3 linked regions of the Homo sapiens genome follow. The protein of the gene in region 3 interacts with the protein of the main gene of each other region in a biochemical or structural test. Each region holds a gene or a part of one and is shown on either strand. Other genes may lie near its edges.

The links.
Region 1: of the proteins of OBI1 (region 3) and ORC5, one has a biochemical effect on the other in vitro, tested with the Homo sapiens proteins (one study listed by BioGRID).
Region 2: of the proteins of OBI1 (region 3) and ORC3, one has a biochemical effect on the other in vitro, tested with the Homo sapiens proteins (one study listed by BioGRID).

The regions. Positions count from the first base shown.
Region 1 is NC_000007.14:104,162,904-104,170,016, forward strand, and holds part of ORC5 (origin recognition complex subunit 5), read right to left. Parts: intron 5,623-7,113; coding exon 5,570-5,622; coding exon of another isoform or gene 5,472-5,569; exon of another isoform or gene 5,286-5,471; intron 3,982-5,285; coding exon 3,869-3,981; intron 2,380-3,868; coding exon 2,332-2,379; intron 1-2,331. UniProt on the Homo sapiens protein: Component of the origin recognition complex (ORC) that binds origins of replication. DNA-binding is ATP-dependent. The specific DNA sequences that define origins of replication have not been identified yet.
Region 2 is NC_000006.12:87,586,133-87,593,247, reverse strand, and holds the start of ORC3 (origin recognition complex subunit 3), read right to left. Parts: upstream 3,114-7,115; 5' UTR 3,080-3,113; coding exon 3,056-3,079; intron 1-3,055. Other genes in the region: RARS2 (probable arginine--tRNA ligase, mitochondrial isoform 3 precursor), read left to right, coding at 3,291-3,326. UniProt on the Homo sapiens protein: Component of the origin recognition complex (ORC) that binds origins of replication. DNA-binding is ATP-dependent. The specific DNA sequences that define origins of replication have not been identified yet.
Region 3 is NC_000013.11:78,649,060-78,656,172, forward strand, and holds part of OBI1 (ORC ubiquitin ligase 1), read right to left. Parts: intron 1-7,113. UniProt on the Homo sapiens protein: E3 ubiquitin ligase essential for DNA replication origin activation during S phase.

The sequences.
Region 1 (7,113 bases), on a different chromosome or scaffold from region 3:
ATACACAGCATTGTTTGCATGGTTTAAAATTTTATATAAATGATATCATTTGGAACATACCTCTCTACCAATTGCTTTTTGAGATTTATCCATATAGATACATGTAGCTCTAGTCCATTTTTAAATTACCTTACAGAATTCCATTTTATGACTACTTAAAAAAATTCATTATTACAAATAATCCTGTGACTGATAATCTTGTACATTTCTCCTTGTGCACATGTGTGAGTTTCTCTAAGTAGGATTGCTGGATTAAAGCACAAGGCAGAGTCAGTGCTATGTGTCTGCCAACACTGTTTCTTCTCTGACACACAAGAAGACTACATTTCTCAGTCTCTCCTGCAGTTAGATAGAGGTCACGTAACTGGGTTCTGCCAGGCCAATGAAATATGAATAGAAGTGATGTAAACTACTTGCAAGCCTAGTCTTTCACCTTCTTTCCCTTTAGTGGCAACTTCAGAGGCCACAATGTTTCACTTCATATCACTATGAGATGAAAGAGGGTCACTCAATTCACAGTTATGTTGTAAGCAACATAAAAACTTCTGTTGTGTAAAGCCACCATGGTTTGGGGGGTTTTGTTTTGTTTGTTTGTCTGTTTGAGAAGGAGACTCACTCTGTTGCCCAGGCTGGAGTGTAGTAGCGTGATCTCGGCTCACTGCAAGCTACGCCTCCCAGGTTCACGCCATTCTCCCGCCTCAGCCTCCCAGGCAGCTGGGACTACAGGCGCCCACCATCATGCCCGGCTAATTTTTGTTTTTGTATTTTTAGTAGAGCCGGGGTTTCACCATGTTAGCCAGAATGGTCTCGACCTCCTGACCTCGTGATCCACCCGCCTCGGCCTCCCAAAGTGCTGGGACTACAGGTGTGAGGCACCCCGCCCAGCCGGGATTTGCTTTTTACTACAAGCATAGCTAGTCTATCCTAATATTAACATATTAACTTCACATATTAACTTCAGTAGATATTGTCAACCTGCAGAACAGGCAGACTCTCGCTCTTCTACATTATCTCCAGCACTTGAAATCATAGAATTTTTTAGTTTTGTCAAACCAAGAGTATGAAATATCTCACTGTTGTTTTAACTTTTTCTCTCATTAGTGAATAAGGCTGTTAATCATGTCATGATTGTTAGACATTCAGGTTCCTTATTGTATCATTTATCCATTTTGCTATCGAATTTTTGTCCTTTTCTTATTGGTTTGTAATGAGTCTTTAAAAATTCGAGACATTAGGTTGGGCATGGTAGCTCATGCCTGTAATCCCAGCACTTTGGAAGGCTGAGAGGAGTGGATCATTTGAGACCAGCCTCGAACTCCTGGGCTTAGATGAGTCCCTGGTGAAACCCTGTCTCTACAAAAAATACAAAAATTAGCCAGGCACAGTGGCGTGTGCCTGTAGTCCCAGCTACTAGGGAGGCTGAGACAGGAGGATCACTTAAGCCCAGGAGGTTGAGGCTGCAGTGAGCCATGATCACGCCATTGCACTGCAGCATGGGTGACTGAGACCCTACCTCAAAAACAGATAAATAATAAAAATTCTAAACGTTAACCATTTGTCTATTGTAGGAGTTCAAGAACAGTGGTAAACATCATCGTAGGCTTTGGAGTCAGGAAGTCCTGGAATTGAGCAAAACTGCCTCTAAGAATAAGGGAAACAAAACTTGCAGTTTCTATAGTGCAGAGTTTATATTTCAAAATTCTCCATCTTCTGACAAGAAAAGCAACAGTGGTTTGGACATACAAAGTGGAAGAAGTGATCTAAATAGTCTAAATGCTTCTTTCACCAGTTTCAACCTTATCTGACCCCACCTTCAAAAGTACTTAGTGCTTCTAATCCCTAAGCTTTTTTCCAGATTCCTAAGGCCAAATTAGCTAAGTTTGAGGCTTAGGTTTTAGCGTTTTCTCTAATCTGCTTGGTCACCTCAATATCTACCTACCATGCAATTGCAAATTCTGGGGGTCTCTCATCTGCTTAGTATTTATGAGTTTACCTTTTTTATTTGTTGTGGGTGCTTCAAAGGGGAAAGAAAAGAGGAAAATGCCTGTATTCAATTGGCTGTATTTAACTAAATAATCCAGGGTAAACTTCTTCATCTACTAAGTCACTAAAAAACTTTGTCAACTCAGTTTTAAACTCCAGCAGCAGCTCACCTAAATGTGCATTCAATCACTATATTCAATATAACAAAATTCTATTACAGTATAACGGTACCATATCAACACAAATAAGTTCCTATATTCAAATGACAAATACAATTACAGATGTATCTATTTCCTATATTATCTTCATTTCCTAAGTTTCTTCCATTAGAAATTAAAATGTAAATACCTTTTCGTGTTTTTTTAGAAAGTTGGTTTTCTTGATTTTTCCATGATGCTGCAATTAAGGAAAACAAATTTTAAGTTGAAAAGACAGTATTCCACAAAACCAGAAAACGTTATTTATTTAAAACATGGCACACATAATACTAATCTGTATATCTCAGGTTTTTAAATAGTTATTCTTCTTATCACCTTGTATATATATTAGACTTCAACATATTTTAGGCCAATTTCGTTTAGACTTGGATTGGATATAAAATTACTTTTGCATGTAAAAAAAGAATTTCTAAAATAAAATAATGACATTTCCTAAAAGAGCTTATTATATTGATTTAGTTCAGCATATACATTGCTATAAAAATGAAACTTCCAGAGATATGGATTTTTATTCATCCCATAAGTCTGGCAATCCACATAATAAACGCTGACGGAGGGCATTTTAGTTAAGCACAGTTCACATAATAAACACTGATTGAGAGCATTTTAGTTAGGCACTCAGGATTCAATAGCAGGGGAAAACAATAGATGTGGTCCTTGCCCTCTAGAAACTAAAGAGGGTCAGGTACAGTGGCGCACACCTGTAATCCTATCACTTTGGGAGGCCGGAGTGGGAGGATGACTTGAGGCCAGGAATTTGGGACCAGCCTGGCCAACATGGCAAAACCCTGTCTCTACCAAAAACATAAAACTTAGCCAGGCGTGGGGGCACACACCTGTAATCCCAGCTACTTGGGAGGCCGAGGCTGTAGTGAGCCAAGATCACACCACTGCACTCTGGCCTGGGTGAGAGTGACACTCTGTCTCAAAAAAATAAAAAAAAATAAAGTCCTGAAGAGTAGCACAAGACATGACAAAAAAATGAATAAATATAAATTGTTGTAAGTCCAAAGAAGAAAGCAAACATCATGTGAAATAGGAAACAATAAAGAGGACCTACTTTAAGATAGGTTGTACAGGGAGAACTGCTTTGAGAAGGCAATATTTAAACTGAAGCATGAAGAATGAGTAGAGAAGGAGCTTTCCAGAAAGACAGAACATACAGACAAAGACCTTAAGGTAGGAAAGAGATCAGAATGTTTTGAGGAAAGAGGAAAAAGGAAAAAGTCTAAAGTGACAAGAACATAGTGGGTAAAGAAGAAGAAAAAAACAACTCTAAACTGGGATTTCTCCAACTAATGTATGTACAGGAGAGGCTCCTTCAGTGTGATGGATAATTATTCACTACAGTGAGTTTTAGAACAACAAAGAGTTACCGCTCTTAAAATTATTTCCATCCTCCACACTTTAAACAAAACCCTATGTATTTTTTAAATCTGAATTATTACCTAAGGTATACCTGATATCCTCTTTTCTATGAAACTGCCTACCTTTTCTCAAATTTGAGGTTGTGACATTAATGTAAAGCCTTTAAAGAATGAGTCCTAAATACATATTTGGCAATCTTATTCTAATCTCTTCCCCTTAGAAATTTACAAGTGTTAAGAAATTTCAAAATATTCCTGGGATCTTAAAAAATAAAGTGAAAAGAAGTATGTTATTATTACCTTAAGAAAAAACCTCTTGTCAGTTCTTGCTGGATTGTATGAAGCAAGGTATGCAGCAATTAGAATGAACTTAGAGTAATATGGAAGTTCCACATGAGTATGCGCTGAGAGGCCTATATAACAAAACACTTTGATGAAGTACTTATTAGGCTAACATTGGGTTTTAAGTATCTCTTCTCACTTGACTTTTCATTTCCATATGGTATTCTCTAGTCAAAATGACCTATTTCCTTATTTTAAAAAGTGTCATGATAATGATGGTCGTGGTGGTGATCAACACTATTATTAATGACAGGCTTTACTCAATCTATTATTTTTGCTTGGCTCTTCTCATTCTGAAGTCTAAATCCTACTCGTTCTTCTCTTCAAGGCCACGCTCTCCATTAAACCCCTGGTGTTCCCCTACCACACCAAAATAGAGAAACTTATTTCTACTATGAATTCCTACTCTGAGTATTCCCACATAACGTGATGCCTTATATTAACAGTTAACTGTACAGGTTGAGTATACTTTATCTGAAATGCTTGGGACCAGAAGTGTTTTGGATTTTTTCAGATGTTAGAATACTTGTATATGCCAGTTGAACATCCCTAAATTCTGAAAAATCAAAGAAAACAAGCATTTCCTCTGAGCTTATGTCAGCACTCAGAAAATTTTGGAGCATTTTCTATTTGGAAGTTTTGGATTCAGAATGCTTAACCTGTACATAAATCATACCCCTTAGTAAACAATACTATTTGTTGAAGGAGCTATGTCTAATGTTTTTTTGTATCCCTACACTGCCTTGCACATAGAAAATAACTGATGAATGGATAAATATTAAAACAGTAGGGTCATTCAAGTAGCACTGATTCTTAAGGGAAGGGAAGGAATCTGATATTTACTGAAAATCTACTATGTGTCAGACACTGTGTTAGGTGCTTTACTTAAGCATCACTTTGAATCTTTGCAGTAATGCTAAATATTCTTCCTATCTCACAAGTGAAAAATTGAGCTGGGTTCAAGGTCAAACAGATAGAAAGTAGTGCAAATCAATTATTACAGATTTGTTCTAACTCTGGCATCTATCCCTTTTCCTAAAAACACACAACTAGAAGTCACTTGTAAAGCATCTGGAACACATAAAAACCAAAAAAACACAAAACAGCACTATTTCATACCATTTTCTTTAACCATCAGCCACTGACTTTTAAAAAAAAATTTTTTTTCAATATTTGCTCATTTTTTTAAGTAAAATTAGTTCTATTTAATATTTGGGATGAATCCAAAGTAGTAGTTTTCTTAAACAAAAGCACAATGTTTTCAAAACATAACCACCAAAGTGCATATCCCAAACCGATTAACATAAAATTACATTTTATTCCATAAAACTCATGAAATATAAACATAATGAGATAAAACTGTCACATAATTAGATTGCTTTAATAAAAGCATTTAAAGAAATAGAAACTGCTTGATTTTCATGATATAATCCAATATTTAGAAAATAGAAAGCTGGTATTCAAACTTTTATTTCCTCCCATTAAATTAGAGCTTCAGTTAAAGAAAAATCATTAATCAAAATAGCATTATAGCTTGAAAAGTAAATTCTCTTTTATAACACTATTTCCTGACTGAATGCTCTTTAGTATTAACTTTAGTATCTTGATAATTAGCTGAAGAAGTATCTCCGGTAACTGTCTCAATACTTCCTCTGATACCTTTCAGTTGCCCCGGATCTGTGTCATCTTTCTGTAGCTTTTCCCACTGGGAACTGAAAAAAAATAGAAGAGCAAAAATGAATTAAAAATAAATAAAATCAATATGGTGTACTTAAAACAGAGCCCTAGAAAAACTAAATTTTTTTATTTATTAACAAAACAGAAAAGAAAAATATATACATGCAATAAACATGTTTGTACCTGTACAAAATAATTTAATGTATATATTAGAATGTCATAAATTTATAAAGCAATACCTAGATATTAACTATTTTAATAATCTCTTTTACTATGATGACTGTTGTAGCTATCAAAAAACTTCACCCAGGCCGGGTGTGGTGGCTCATGCCTGTAATCCCAGCACTTTGGGAGGCCAAGATAGGAGGATCACATGAGGCCAGGAGTTCAAGCTCAGCCTAGGCAACATGGGGAAACCCCATCTCTATTAAAAATACAAAAATTAGCTGGGTATGGTGGCGCATGCCTATACTCCCAGCTACTTGGGTGGCTGAGGCACGAGAATCACTTGAACCTGGGAGGTGGACGTTGCAGTGAGCTGAGATTGTGCCACTGCACTCCAGCCTGGGCGAGAGTGAGCCTGTCTTTAAAAAAAACAACAACAAACAAAAAACCAATAAATACTACCACCTACCACTCGGTAAAACTCCCAATGTTCTAGTTACCGTATTAGATGCAATTGTCATATACTATTTCTAAACTCTATAGCAATCCCTCAAAGTAGGTATCACACCAGAAAACTGAGGCTCAAAGATTAAGTCACCCAAGGACATTTAGCCAGTCAATACTAGAGCTACGAGTCGAATCCTTGTAGGATGCTTGCAGAGTTCAAGGTATTTTAATTGCCCCATCCTGGACTTATTTGCAATTAAAACTGTTAAACAACCAAAACACTATTAAGAATATGAAGTGATTATGACACGACAAATTGAATTTATAAGGCAACACACTATAGTATAATGAGTAAAGAATGCCCTACGACAGTTTTAGCTGCATGACTTCGAAAAAATGAATAGTTTACTCATAAAAAAAAATAAGGCAGTTTGATGCAAAGGTGCTCACCAACTCTAAAACTCTCACAGAACTCTTAAAAATGAGCTAATTTACAGGGCTAATTTAAAAATAATGCCAGATTAGAACAATTAAATATCCAAAATCTGCATGAAGAACAGGGTGGAAGTGATAAGGATGAGTGTGGGCCTTCTTTGAGTATACTTTAAAAAAAGTAGTTTTAGCTTTTGAAGTATTCTTTGATGCCCATCTCTCACCTGTATAGCAATCAACAAGTTTAATTTTCCCCTTTCTCTTTTCCTTCTTTTCCCAATTTTTAAGTTGTAATATTCCTACCTTGTCAGAATACATAATATTTACATACTATTCTTCTACTCTTATTTCCACCTTAATTTTAGTTTGGAGCTAAGCTTAATTAAATTCAATGTTCATCATCAATCCTTTTGTTAGTTTCTCCAGTCATCTCTTTTTCACATCAAGGTCGTCCTAAGAAATGTCTTATGAGTAGTGTTCTC
Region 2 (7,115 bases), on a different chromosome or scaffold from region 3:
GTCCTGGTAATTTCCCAGCTATGTTTAGTTTCATATTATTGTTTGACCAGTGGTAGATCACCCCCAAGTTAGTGGTCCTAGTCTATTCTACCAATTCTAAAGTCATACATGATGGATAGCTTATAGTTTTTTTTTGTTTGTTTGTTTGTTTTTTTGAGACAGAGTCTCGCTCTGTCGTCCAGGCTGGAGTGCAATGGTGCGATCCTGGCTCACTGCAACCTTTGCCTCCCGGGTTCAAGCCATTCTCCTGCCTCAGCCTCCTGAGTAGCTGGGATGACAGGTGCCCACCACCATGCCTGGCTAATTTATTGTATTTTTAGTAGAGACGGGGTTTCACTATGTTGGCCAGGCTGGTCTCGCACTCCTGATCTCGTGATCCATCCGCCTCGGCCTCCCAAAGTGCTGGGATTAGAGGCATGAGCCACTGCACCCGGCCTGATGGATAACTTCTTAAATATTTCGATTTCTATGGAAAATAAAAGACAGAATGAAAGAACGATACCTAGGAAAAGTTGTCTCAGGATAGTGTTAAAGACCGCTGTGCAACTATAAAGTAGCCATTTGGATTACATGTTCCCATTTAAGAACTGTGCCTTAGATTCTTTTTTCTGCTATTGTTGAGACAGAGTCTCCCTCTGTTGCCCAGGCTAGAGTGCAATGGCACAATCTTGGCTCACTGTAACCTCTACCTCCCGGGTTCAGGCGATTCTCCTGCCTCAGCCTCCTGAGAGGCTGGGATTACAGGCGCCCACCAACATGCCAGGCTAATTTTGTATTTTAGTACAGATGTGGTTTCACCATGTTGGTCAGGTTGGTCTCGAACTCCTGACCTCAGATGATCCACCCACCTCGGCCTCCCAAAGTGTTGGGATTACAGGCATGAGCCACTGCACACAGCCCTGTGCCTTATATTCTTATATCTGCAACTAGCAGAAGTGTGCGAAATCACATACATATTTAGAAAAATCATGTGATACCATGACAAACCTGTCATTACCTCCTTTCCAAATCCACCTGCAATTCAGTAAAGGAAAAAGGAGCTTCAAAGGAGCAAGACATGAGGAGTGATCAGAAAGGATCTTAATATAGGGCAGTGGTAGTAACATGGTTAACCATTTGGAACTGCTGGTCAAGTGATGGTGTTTGAGATAGAGGAAGGCCAACAGCCAGAAAATTTCACGATGAAAGAGACACTAAAATGTTTTGATATGTTTAAGGACCGGGCGTGGTGGCTCACGCCTGTAATCCTAGCACTTTGGGAGGCCGAGGCTGGCGGATCACTCGAGGTCAGGAGTTCGAGACCCGCCTGGCCAACATGGTGAAACCCTGTCTCTTCTAAAAATACAAAATTAGCTGGGTGTAGTGGGGCATGTCTGTAATCCCAACTGCCCGGGAGGCTGAGGTGGGAGAATAGCTTGAATCGGGGAGGTGGAGGTTGCAGTGAGCCGAGATCGCGCCACTGCACTCCAGCCTGGTAACAGAGCAAGACTCTGTCTCAAGAAAAAAAAGAAAAGAAAAAGAAAAAAAGCTTGCAGTTCCATAAATTCATGAAATAGTTCTTAAAGCTTCTTATTCATGTAAGGTCTCATCCCAATACAGACATTTGTTATAATACCAAAAATGCTTTCCTGAAAAATCTTACTTTCTGCAAGATACATAAAAATAAGAGGTGCTTATGCAATCAACAGGATTAAGGGATAGACCATTCAAAACCTACAGAACATTATAACCAGGACAAAATAAAACCAGTACCATTTCTAATAAAAATACTACCTTTGAATCTCTACTAGCATAACCTTAAACCCCAGGGCTTGTCCTTTTTCCTTGAGATGTAGTCTTTAAAAGCACTGCTTCTCATAAACCGTTTTAATCAAAATAAAAAATCAGATCCATGACATAGCCTTCTTCATCAATCCATTGTTTTAACATAGGGAGAATGTAGCTTCTTCATGTGCATTTTTCAGCTTTCTCAGACAGCTTAACTTCAGGGGCTTCCCGCTGCACTTACAATAGAACTCAAGGTCTTACTTTTTGTGGTCCAGAACAGCGCTGTCCAACAGAACTTTCTGTAATGATAGAAATGTCCTATATCTGCACTATCTAAAATGGTAGCTGCAGCCACATGTGATGATTGAGCACTTGAAATGTGGTTAGTGCAACGGAGAAACTGAATTTTTATTTAATCTTACTTTATTTTAACTCAAATTTAAATAGCCACATGTGGTGAGTGACTAACACATTGGACAATACAGCTCTAGGGCTTATCTTCTTACCAACTACACTATGTCTTGCAATTTCTTGCCATCTAGGTAGCCAACATGAGGAGGTCTATAAGATATCCCACCACACACACCCGCATCCACATTACTTTTTCATTCTCATTTTTCATGACGCTCCCACTCTTTGTCTACTTTCTGATTATGATTTTTAAATTCCTCTAATATGCCATTTTATTTCTATCTTCTGGGCCGAAGAAACATGCTGTTCTCTCTGCCCTCCTCGCCCTAATCCTTAACCTAACTTCTACTCATTTTTCAGGTCTCAGCGAAAGGGTCACTTTCTCCAAAAAGCCTCCGCTAACCCCCGACAACCTATATTAGGTTCTTCCCACTCTTCTGTTGTCTGCCTAGAACTCTTTTCCTTGCTAACACTTAAAATTTGTGATCGTCAGTTTATCTATGTTTACCGACTTTCTTGACTGCAGAAACTGAATCTGTTTTGTTTACCACTGCATCTTGGTACCTAACGGAGTGCTTGGCGCACAGTATTTGTGAGATGGAAAAATGAGAGACTGGGCCACATCATCAGGACATCCGACCTCCACCAACCAGAACTTAAAAATCCTCCTAGCCATACCACAAGGCAGATCCGCGTCCTCGCTCCCCAAGCAAAGTTGGCCTCAACTGATCTGGAGCAAGGACGCCTCAGCTCAGTACGCCGCTCCCTCCCTCCTCTCCAGCCAGGGAAGGGATGCCTACGTAACCTCGGCTTCATCCCTTCTTCAAAGGGGAATGAGGCAGCGGTAGAGCCACAGTGCGCATCGGCCACCACATACCTTAGACATCGAGGACGTAGCCATGGTCTTACTGACTCTGCGTATTCCAGATGCACTCGGGATTTCCCGCGCGCCCTCGCGGCTGCAGGGCAGAGGTTAGTGGCGAGCCACACGGCTCCTTGATTGGCTGGCATCACCCTCCGGGGCGGGTTTCCGGCGCGGGGAGGCGGGTCGTATAAGGAGGTGGGGCGAGGCCGGAACTGGCGGACTGCGGCGCACTTCCGTAGAGGTGGACATGGCGTGCGGCTTTCGCCGCGCTATTGCTTGCCAGGTATGGATCCCGGAGCGCGCAGAGGAGTCCCTGAGGAGCTAGGGACCCCAAAGGCCTTTCACCGCTGCGGGCCAGTCCTCAGTCAGCTGGAGGGTGGGTCCCACGGAATCCTGTTAGTTTCTACCACCTCCTCCCCCTTCTCTGGAGCTGGTGGAGCTTCAGAAGTCCTGTGGAGCGTCGGCTGGGATCAGTTTGTCTCGGTGAAAAGTAAACTTTGAAAGGTACCTGGTGCTTTCTTCTCTCCTTCCCACCCCACAGCTATGAATGCTTTACCTGGGTGGCGGCAAGTCATTAGACCATGATTAGACCCCATAGAAGTTAGTGTTCTTTACACTTTAGTGACATTGATGATGGATCTGGATTGTTCTTCAGAAGGACCTCATTTTAAAGCTGCTTATTTCTCTTGCAGTCACTTAGGCAGCCTACCCTAGAATTGTTTTTGGTAACGCCCAAAGATATAAGAGCTATCTGAGACTCAGTTTTTCTTGGTTCAGGGTCGTATTTGAACAGCTCTGTTGTGAGGAAGGGCTTACAAAATTGCAATATAATTGCTTTGTTTTGTTTTTCCTTTTTGTGGAGAACGGGGTCTCGCCGTATTGCCCAGGCAGGCCTCAAACTCCTGGGCTCAAGCTGTCCTCCCTCCTCTGCTTCCCTAAGAGCCGGGATTACAGGCCTGAGCCACCGCGCTGGGCAAAATTGCAGTATAAATGTGGAATTAATCAAAAAGAATTTTTAAGACTCATTGGCCACCCTTGCAAGGAAACTTTCTATTGTGGTCTTGGCTAACCCATTTCCTTCTGATTAATGGATGTACTAGTGGACGTAATTAGCCTGGTGTATAATTTATCTTGGCTCATTTTTACAGTATTTCTAGACATTTGTGGGGAAATCCCTCTGCCTTGTCTTTATGTTTATAGATGTACTGCCCTGTCCGGTGATAATTCGCCAAATATCACCAACATGACATTTTGTTAAGACAGCTGAATTTATTGCTCACTGGGATAAGGAAGAACACCACTGAGAGCTTTGGTAGTGTATTAAACTGGGAAAGCAAGGTCAGATTTTACTGATGGGTATGGCTTAAGGCTGGTCTTTCAGAGGGAGAGGGTAGGAGGGTGTTGGAGGAAGATGGCTTGATTAGGGTTGGACTCTGATCTGATACAGCGGTTTAAGATTGATAGGAAAAGCAAAGAGTGCAAGAAGCCTTAAGGCATAAACTATTGAGGTTTTCTATTGGAAGAACTAATAGGCCTGGCATGTGGTTCATGCCTATAATCCCAGCACTTTGGGAGGCCAAGGTGGGAGGATGGCTTGAGCCCAGGAGTTCGAGACCAGCGTGGACAACATAGGTAGACCCCGTCTCAACAAAATTTTTTTTAAAAAGTAGCCAGGCATGATGGTGCACCTCTGTAGTCCTAGCTGCTTGAAAGGCTGAGTCTGGAGGATCACTTGGACGGACCCACGAGTTTGAAGCTACAGTGAGCTATGATTGTGCCACTGCACTCCAGGGTGGGTGACAGAGCGAGACCCTGTAAACAAAAAATAAAAATAAAAAACGTGAAAAGCTAATAGATTTCTCATGAAGTTCTTATAATGAATGATTAAGTTATTTGGGCAGAAGTCTTCTAGAACAGTAAAGTTATGCTAATGAAGACAAAAAATAATAAATTCATGTTAATGTAGACAGTAAACCATATCAGGGAAGGTAGTTTTGGACCTTAGTATCTAAGCTGTGTGTAAGGGTGGACGTTTTCCATTCTTAGCCCTTAAGTAAAGATAGTGCCATGATGAGAAACAAATTGTGTTTAGTTTTGCAAAGGCTGTGTTCTTTGTAAAGACTGTAAATTGGACCAGGCATGGTGGCTCACACTTGTAATCCCAGAACTTTGAGAGGCCGAGGTGGGAGGATCCCTTGAACTGAGACGTTCAAGACCAGCCTGGGCAACATAGGGAGACCCCCATCTCTATAAAGAAATAAAAAACAAAACTTAGGTGTAGTGGCACACACCTGTGGTCCCAGCTGCTTGGGAAGCTGAGGTGGGAGGATCGTTTGGGCCCAGGTGGCTGAAACTAGCAAGCTTTGATTGCACCGCTGCACTTCAGCCTGGGGGACAAAGTGAGTCCCTGTCTCAAAAAAAAGAAAAAGATAAGTTGGAGAAACAAGAACTAATATATTGAGTATATATTTGTGCTAGTTACTACACATTCACATTTAAGCTCATGGCAACCCTGTGATATAGAAGTATTAACCTTATTATATAATTGAGTCAGTTGAGATCCACAGAGATTAAATAACTTACCCAAAGCCACATCATCAATACATTGTAGAGTTGGTTTATGAACAGAACTCTAACTTTAAAATTAGATCTTTCCTATATACTGTGCTCTTTGTGAAAGCAAGAAGCACAGTCCAATCATTGAACAGAATCTAATGGATTTATACAGCAGTGTAAATTATGCAGATATATATGTATTTCTCTGAATATAGAGTCATTGGGGAATGATCTGAAACTTGAGGATAAATAATAATATTTTCAATACGTTAGGACATGGGGAAAAAAGAGCAAAGAAAAAACATGTTCCGTACAGTTTGAGCATCCCTAAGCTGGAAATCTGAAATGCTCCAAAATTTGAAACTTTTTGAGTGCTGACATGAGACTCAATGTTCATTGAGTTCATTGGAGCTCAATTGGAAATTGGAAATGTTCATTGGAGAATTCCAGATTTTCAGATTAGGAGCTGGGTATGGTGGCTCATGCCTATAACCCCAGCACTTGGAGAGACTGAGACAGGCAGATCACTTGAGCCCAAGAGTTCAAGACCAGCCTGGGAAACTAATTAGAAAATTAGTTGGGCATGGTGGCACCCTCCTGTAATCCCAGATACTTGGGAGGCTGAGGTGGAAGGATCACTTGAACCTGAGAGGTGGAGGTTGCAATGAGCCAAGATTGTGCCACTGAACTCCAGCGTGGGTGGTAAAGCAAGACCCTGTCTCAAAAAATAAATAAATAAATAAATAAATAAATAAATAAATAAATAACCAACCCCACAGATTTTCAGTTTAGGGATGCTCAACAGGTAAGTATAAAGCCAATATTCCAAAATCTGAAAAAATTCAAAAGTTGAAACACTTGTGGTCCCAAGGATACCCAGCCTGTATTTAATACCTTTGCGAATGAGCATCGTTTTGCTATAATAGTTTAGGAATGAAGGAATGTGTAACGTGCAATGGCAAATGCATTTAGCTAACTTTGATTAATTAGTCGACAGTTTTCTAAGCACTGTCATCAGTCCCAAGGCTAAAAGTGAACGGAAAATAGTTTCTGCCCTGAAATGGCCTCAGACATGCTTGGAAAACGATGTAAACCGGTAATTGCATTGCAGCCTGTAATCACTGTATTAGAAGCATGTGCAAAGTGCCAAGGGAACTTGAAAGCTCCTAAGGGTCAGACAAAGTTTTGTAGAAAGGTGATGTTAGGTCTCAGTTTTGAAAGGGATATGGGTAGGAGTGTGCCAAGTAAATAGAGTGAGAGCTTGGGGAGAGGTCAGGTATTGCAAGAGGAGGATGTGCATAGACACAGACATCTGGAAAGCATGATATGTACATAGAATCACAATATTTGGATTCCTTTCTTCAGCAAGTCCTGTTGATTTTATCTTTATATCTTGAATCCATCTACACTATTGCTGCTGCCTCCCCCTCTCCTTTCTCTATTCCACACCAAGCCCCCATTATCACCTATATTGACTGCTTACAACAGCCTTCTGATGGGGTGTTTGTTTCCATTC
Region 3 (7,113 bases):
ATTTCGCACAAGGTAAAAATCAAGAATTCTGTTTTAGCCATGCTAAATTTGTGATGCTAAGCCCATTTTTAAGTGGACAAGTTCAACAAGGCAGGTTTTGAGTCACTGCCATAAAAGACATGAGCATATAAGGCCATAGGACTGGAGGAGATCTCATGAATGGACAAAACAGCTGGAGAAAAGAAGGCACTCCAGCAAGCAAAGGAAGAGGAAGAGCAACCAGCAGAGGAAACTGACAAGGAGGGGTCCTGTGATGTAGGAAAGGAGAATATGATATCACAGAAGTCAAGGCAAGAAAGTTTTTCAAGAGAGAGGCAGCGGCCAGATAAGTAAAATATTGATGTGAGATTGAGTTTGATGTGCACTGAGATGTGACTATGGGATTTAACTGCTTGGAAGTCACTCTGATCAGTTACCGACAAGCACTGTTTCAGCGAATGTTGGGGATGGAAACCTGACTGGAGGTTGAGAGACAATGAAAGATGAAGAAGTGAAGACAGAAAATACAGACAATTCTTTCATGTTTTGCTGTAAAGGAGAGAGCATAAAAATGAGACGACGGTTAGGAATACCAATGGGAATGATAAAGAGAGGATATTAGTGATGGATGAAGAGTGATGGGGGTATTACAGCGATAGGCAACAAAGTCCCTAAGAAGTCAAGAGGGGAAAGGGATCCAAAGCACAAAAGGAGATTTTGGCACATACAGGAGTGAGGGTTTGTCTTCTTTTGCAACAGAAGGGAAAATAGGGGGTGTGTGAACAAACACAAAGGGGTTGGAAGATCTGTGGATGGAAAAATGAGGAAATTCATGTTCCCACTATCTCAGCTGCTTATCTTTTGTCATCAAATATGAGGTGAAGTTATCAGCTGAAAACGAGAAGGGAAGTGGGTTACAGATTTGAGAAGACAGGAGAATAAAGCAGTAATTTTGAAAAGTGAGAAAGCTAATTTACTAGGGATAGGTAGCAGATTGCTATACATTGTTGAGTTCCTTTTCCAGGTCTGTGGTTTCTAATGCAAAGTAAGATTAATTAACGTAGGTGTGTATTTTTCTTATCAATATTTAGCTGTGGAGACTCAGGAAGGAAGTAGATGAGTAGTTTGGTTTACCCAGAGTTGGGGTTTTGCCAAGGAGGAAGAGACAGGGACTGATGATAACAAATGACCACGAATAATAAGGGAAACAAGTACACAAGCGGTAATGATAACAGTGAAAAAGTGATAGGGTCAACAAAAATGTCTCCATGAGGTTGAAGTAATGGTAGAGAATAAGTATGATAGAAACAGGATCAGAGAGTGGGATGCTTATAGTCAAGATACTAAAGGTGGTATAACTGCCTTCTCTAATGTTTTGTTCTGGGCCATCTTATCTGATGTGTTCTATTTTCTCTCTCAATCTCATGTGTCACATGGCATTAACATCTATTCTATGCTGACAACTCCCAAGTCTCCCTCTGTAACTGGAGTCAGTAAGTGGCAGAGCTTAGGCTCTGACAGACAAACCTGGGGCCAACTCCAGTTCTGCCATTTATTGAGCAGTCTGACCTTGGGTAAGCCCTTTAGCTACTGTGGGCATCAGTTTCTGCCTCTGAAAACTGTGGCTTAACCTAGTAACCTTTTCATTCAGGTTTAAGATAATATAATGGATGTCAGCACAGACACTTCTACATAGCAATCCCTCAAAAAAAAAAAAAAAGGTAATATTACTATATCCAAGTGCCTAGGAGCCGACTACATATAAGGATCCTGCAGCTGCCTCAACCATAATTTGGCCTCCACTACACACTTGCTCCTCTTCCTGCACACCCTCCCACCTAAGTTAATGAGATCACTACTTCTCCACTTGAGCTACAACAGAGCTATCTCTGAATCACTCTTTTTACTTATCCTCACCATCCAAACTGTCACCAGACGCTGGTATTATACATTAAGTCTAAGAAGCCACAGATTTGAAGATTCACCAATATTTTATGTATCACTAAGAATGAAAAACTGTCAATTACAATTGTTAAGATACAATCAGATTCCAGAGATGTTATAATTTGAAAAAAAATGTACATCTCAGAATAGTCAAAACATGACAAATCTACCTCCAAACATTCTTTCACCTCTCATCTATCCTTTCCTTTGCATCTTCACCCCAATGAATTTAAGGTTCTCATTCTTTTGTCTTTGATCTACTGCAATGACCACCTCCCAAGCTTCCAAATGTTCATTTCAGTACATCTTTCACAATGATGCCAGAGCTACCTTCCTAAAATATGAATAAGCAGCTTTCACTCCTCTCCTACAAAACAGTAATGATTTTTTTCCTGCTCATAGTTCGAGGTATAGCCTTCAAAGAACATAATCTAATTCTTAAACAGCCATTTCCCTTGACCTACCATTTCAATATTTGACACAATGCACACTTCAACCTCACAGGTCTACTTATGTTCACCAATAAGAATATGAACACTGGGGGCTCCCTGTTTATGGGGCTCCCTATTTATAGAGCTTCCATTTCTCAGCTTGATATATCCTCCTGGTCTCTCCATCCTCCTGACAGTAATAAAAAAAAAATTCCTTCCCTCCTTTTAAGATGCAAATAAAATGCCACCTCCTCTGCAAGCCCTTCATTAATCTTTTTCAGAATTAACCAAGTCTTTGATAGGGCACTCTCTGTTCATTTATTTAATGTTCACCTCTTTCTGCATTGTGCTGTACTTAGAAACTGCTTACATCCTGTCTTCCTTATTAGATTTCAGGCTCACTGACAATAGGGTGAGTGTCCTTCTCATCTCTAACAACTGCAAGATTAATAAAAGTGAATTTTGATGTACTATAATGAAAGGCTGAGATAACAATCCTAAAAGTGCTTCAAGCAGCAAAAGGTCAACAGCCACTGTCAAACTGTAAAAAAGCAAAAGTTTAACCTCCCCATTTAATATGACAAAATGATACAGAACCACCACCACAGGCCGACTGCTTGGCTCTGTCTGCTAAGAGTCATTAACAATGTCACCCACAGGAAAGTTTTCTGCACCTTTGGATACCTGGTATTATCACCACCTTTGTGTTGGGAAGATTTCGGAAACAGGTGACTAATTCATTTCTTTGGAAATGAATATTGGAATGAGTATTTATCAGATGATGATTTCTAGACAACTCAATGAATTTATCTTACGAGAATAGAAATTTCTAAAGAACTACTAAAACAAGTTACTTGTTATATATTTGACTGTAATCTGTGGTAGCAAAACACAAAGAATCTAGCACCCATCCTCTTCTACCCAGATCCTGCTCTGGGTAGAACAAAACACACACATAATTTTCTTTAATAAGATCTTCCCAAGACAAAAAAAAAAAGGTCATCATTTGTCACATTATTAGACTTTCTATCCAATTTACTCTCAAATGAGACCCGTGGCAATAAAACAGTACTCATGAAATAAAAATGCAAGACAAAAAAATGGCAATGGTAAGTGACATACAATTCCAAACTCATCTGGAGTAAGCATAGTAAAGTGGTATCCTAGGGAGCGGTCCCCAACCTTTTTGGCACTAGGGACTGGTTTCGTGGAAGATAATTTTTCCACAGACTGGGGGGTTTCACCTCAGAACATCAGGCATTAGACTCTCCTAAGGAGCACACAATCTAGATCCCTTGCATGCACAGTTCACATTTGGGTTCATGCTCCTATGAAAATCTAATGCTGCCTCTGATCTGACAGGAGGCAGAGCTCAGGTGGTAATACTATCTCACTCCCTGCTCGCCTTCTGCTGTGCAGTCCTGGTTCCTGATAGGCCACTGACTGAACAGTACCTGACTGAGACTGGAGACTCCTGCCCTAGGGTATATCCCCCAGGTGTAAAGGATGGGCTCTTCTTACTGGAATGGGCCTGAGGGGGCAGTTCTTGGGGCAGATATATTAACCTTACAATCTGTTACTCTGATATTTCATTTCTTTTAAAGATGTTCCAGTCTTAAGAGAGTCCACTCTACCACCAAATCCCCTTTCTTAAAAAAGCAAGTATACTTGGGCAGAGACATGCCTAAGGCTGTTGTTCATTAATATCCATATCATCCTAGACTTACCCACTAGGAGTTACACATTGGCTTCAAACAGCGTTTCTCAACTTTGACATTACTAACATTTTGGACTGAAGAAAGTCTTGTTTTAGGCGGTTCCCTGCATATTACAGGATGTCTGGCTAGCAGCATCCCTGGGCTCTACCCACTAGATGCCAGTAGCAGCCCCTTGAAAACAATGAGAAATGTCTCCACACACTGCCCCATGTCCCTGGGGGACAAAATCTACCTCCACCTAGTTGAGAACCACTAGTATGGTATAGTCAAAGGAATCTTACTAATAAGCTAGTGGGGCTGTTGTATCAAATCCATTTTCAGTTGTGGAAACTGAGACTCTAAGAAATAATGATACAGGTTATAAATGGTAGAGCTAGCATTTGTACTCAATGTGATTCAACTGCAAAATCATGTGTTCTTTCAACTAAGAAACAGTTCTTTCTTCCTTGGAGCAGGGTTAGTGAACAATAATCTGGGAGAAATAAATACAGGACGATGTGCCTGAAGGAAGTGAGATCCTGGACACTGATGGAGGTGATGGGAGTGAAGACGGTATTGATGAACTTTACCAACTGGTCTTGCAATTATATCTATTATAAAACCAACTCCCCTGCTCTTCTGGCATCCTCCCCTCACTAGAGACAAGAGCCAACTGTGCTTCTAGAAAGAATATTATTCTTTCTTGCACCTTGTCAAAACTTTATCGGTTTCTCTAGTGAAGACCTGGAAAGACTATGTAAAGGATTAGTCTTCAGTGTAAAAATGACTATGGTAGGGGCACCACTACTTCAACATTAGGAATTTGGAAACTTTCCAAAATAAAATTCCTGGATAGCTCTTGGTTATGTTTTAAGAAATCCCTGGTTCTGGGCCAGAATTTAGGTCCTATAACTTAAGGAAAAAAAAAAAAAAAAAACCTGTGTGAAATAAGTCACTTAATGCCTATAGAACTGGTTCCCCATTCCTGTCTAGGTAAAAGGAGAGATGATACATCTCTTCTCTTCTACCTTCATCCCTACCAGAAATGCTTTGGGATAAACTGGAATTGTACTTGTCAAGTAAGTATGTCAGCTATTACATACCAACCCTGATAATTACTAGGATACATCTACGATTTTTGAATTAACTTATTATACACTATGTATAAAATGCAATATTGTTATACTTTTCTGAAAGTGAATCCTTCAAACTTATTTTCAACTGGAAAAAAGAGAAAAATGTAGAACTTGCAGTCCATATGGCTTTTTTTCAAAGCAAATTACTTATGACAATTATGTACAAGGCTGGTTCTTAAATCCACTCTTGGGAACTGAGAGGCAATCAGGACTCAAACATGGGCTCCATGTACTGACGTGGATGACTTGCTGATCAATCAACAGCTCCAAGTGAACAGTGATTAATGAATTTTGTCATCCTAGAGTGAGGACTCTAAGTTGCATAAGGCTTTGTCTCTAGCCCTATATTTTCAATATTTTAAATAAACAATATGGGTGAGAAGAAGAGAGGCATCCCTGAAAGAAGGGATCCTTTTGATAGCATTCCTTATGGGAAACAGTCAGTCTACTAGAGGATACTCCAAGACACAGGAACTCCTGCATTATAAGGAAGCTGATTTCATTTCTGGTTATTTCAGCCAGAACACTTGCCCTTAATATTAAGTAGAAATCATAATTTTATGGAGCCACACAAGGCTTGAGTCCCTTCCAAATGAAAAATATTTTAATTAAAGATTCCCTATCATATCCATTCATTCCAGCACTATTCCAGTCCACCTACATTCCAATCCCAATTTCATTCTCCCCCAAATGTTTTCAAAATACTCTGGTTTATTGTTTATCTTAAAGGGTAGGACCCAAAACTGGACTCATAGTCGAATGAGAAATAACTGAATATGATACATTAATGCTGAAAAGCATTAGTTGCTTTGCATTTCTCTTGAGAATCTCCTTCACCCTTTCATAAAACCAACTGCGGGCCACATTTGGCTTTCACTCATGGCAAAATGCATGCACGGCCAATAAAAAGTATTACATGCCATAATTTGGTTTCACAGCTTGAGTCCCAATTGAAAAGATAAACCCTGGAATTATCTAGAGGTAAACTGGTTTGTAACAGCCTGGTGGCACTATCAAAATGTCACTTAACAGATACTCTGGGATAGATCATTACTACATTTCTGCTTGCTGGCCCACTAGTTTAAGAAACAAACAAACAAAAAAAAAACAGGGAAGAATAGGTAAGAAAATATGTTATGCGTAAATCATCCCATGGGATGGTACCTAACTTCTTCAGGCCACATAGAGCTCTTACTTACAATATTGGCAAAGTAACTAAAAACATTATTGGGTAGAGAAAATTCACCTTTAAAACTGAAGTAGAGACAGAGGTGTAAATTTTCCAATTTTAAGTGCAAAGACAAAGCATTAACAGGTGAATACCTGGGCTCTCTCTCCTTCCTCTCCATCCCCACTGGCATCTATCTCTTCAGATTTAATGCCCTGCCCTCATCTCTCCCCCTTCATGGTATCCACCTTGTGACCCTCCAGGGATAATGGTCCTTAATTCTGTTGAATAATCAAAAGAGAAGATGCTGACTGTGAGATCTGGGGACATATGGTAACAGTAGCACAAGAACAATTATCTTTAAAAAAGAGCTAGGCACGAAGGACCTTAGGAACATTCTTAGAAGTGGCCAGAGATGCTCTATGTCAGGGAAGCAGAAGCGAACCTGAGGACACGCCAGTTTTAGTATCTCACAGTATAATACGTGTAGGAGGGTGAGCAGCACAATCATACTGAATTTGCTTTCACTATAAAAAAGAAAAGAGACATGGAACCAGCTGAAAATTCTGGATGTACTGTGGCAATTTCCAGAACAAACAGGTCTCATTTGGTTGGGAATGCAAATCTTCATTTTGAAGTGCTCCAGCCTCACAAAGCAACTGGGAAGAACAATTACTGGAAAAGGCTGGTTTCCTCAGTTTGAGGGCTGGCCTCAATGGCTATAGTAAAAGCTAACAGTTATTAAACATTATGTGCCA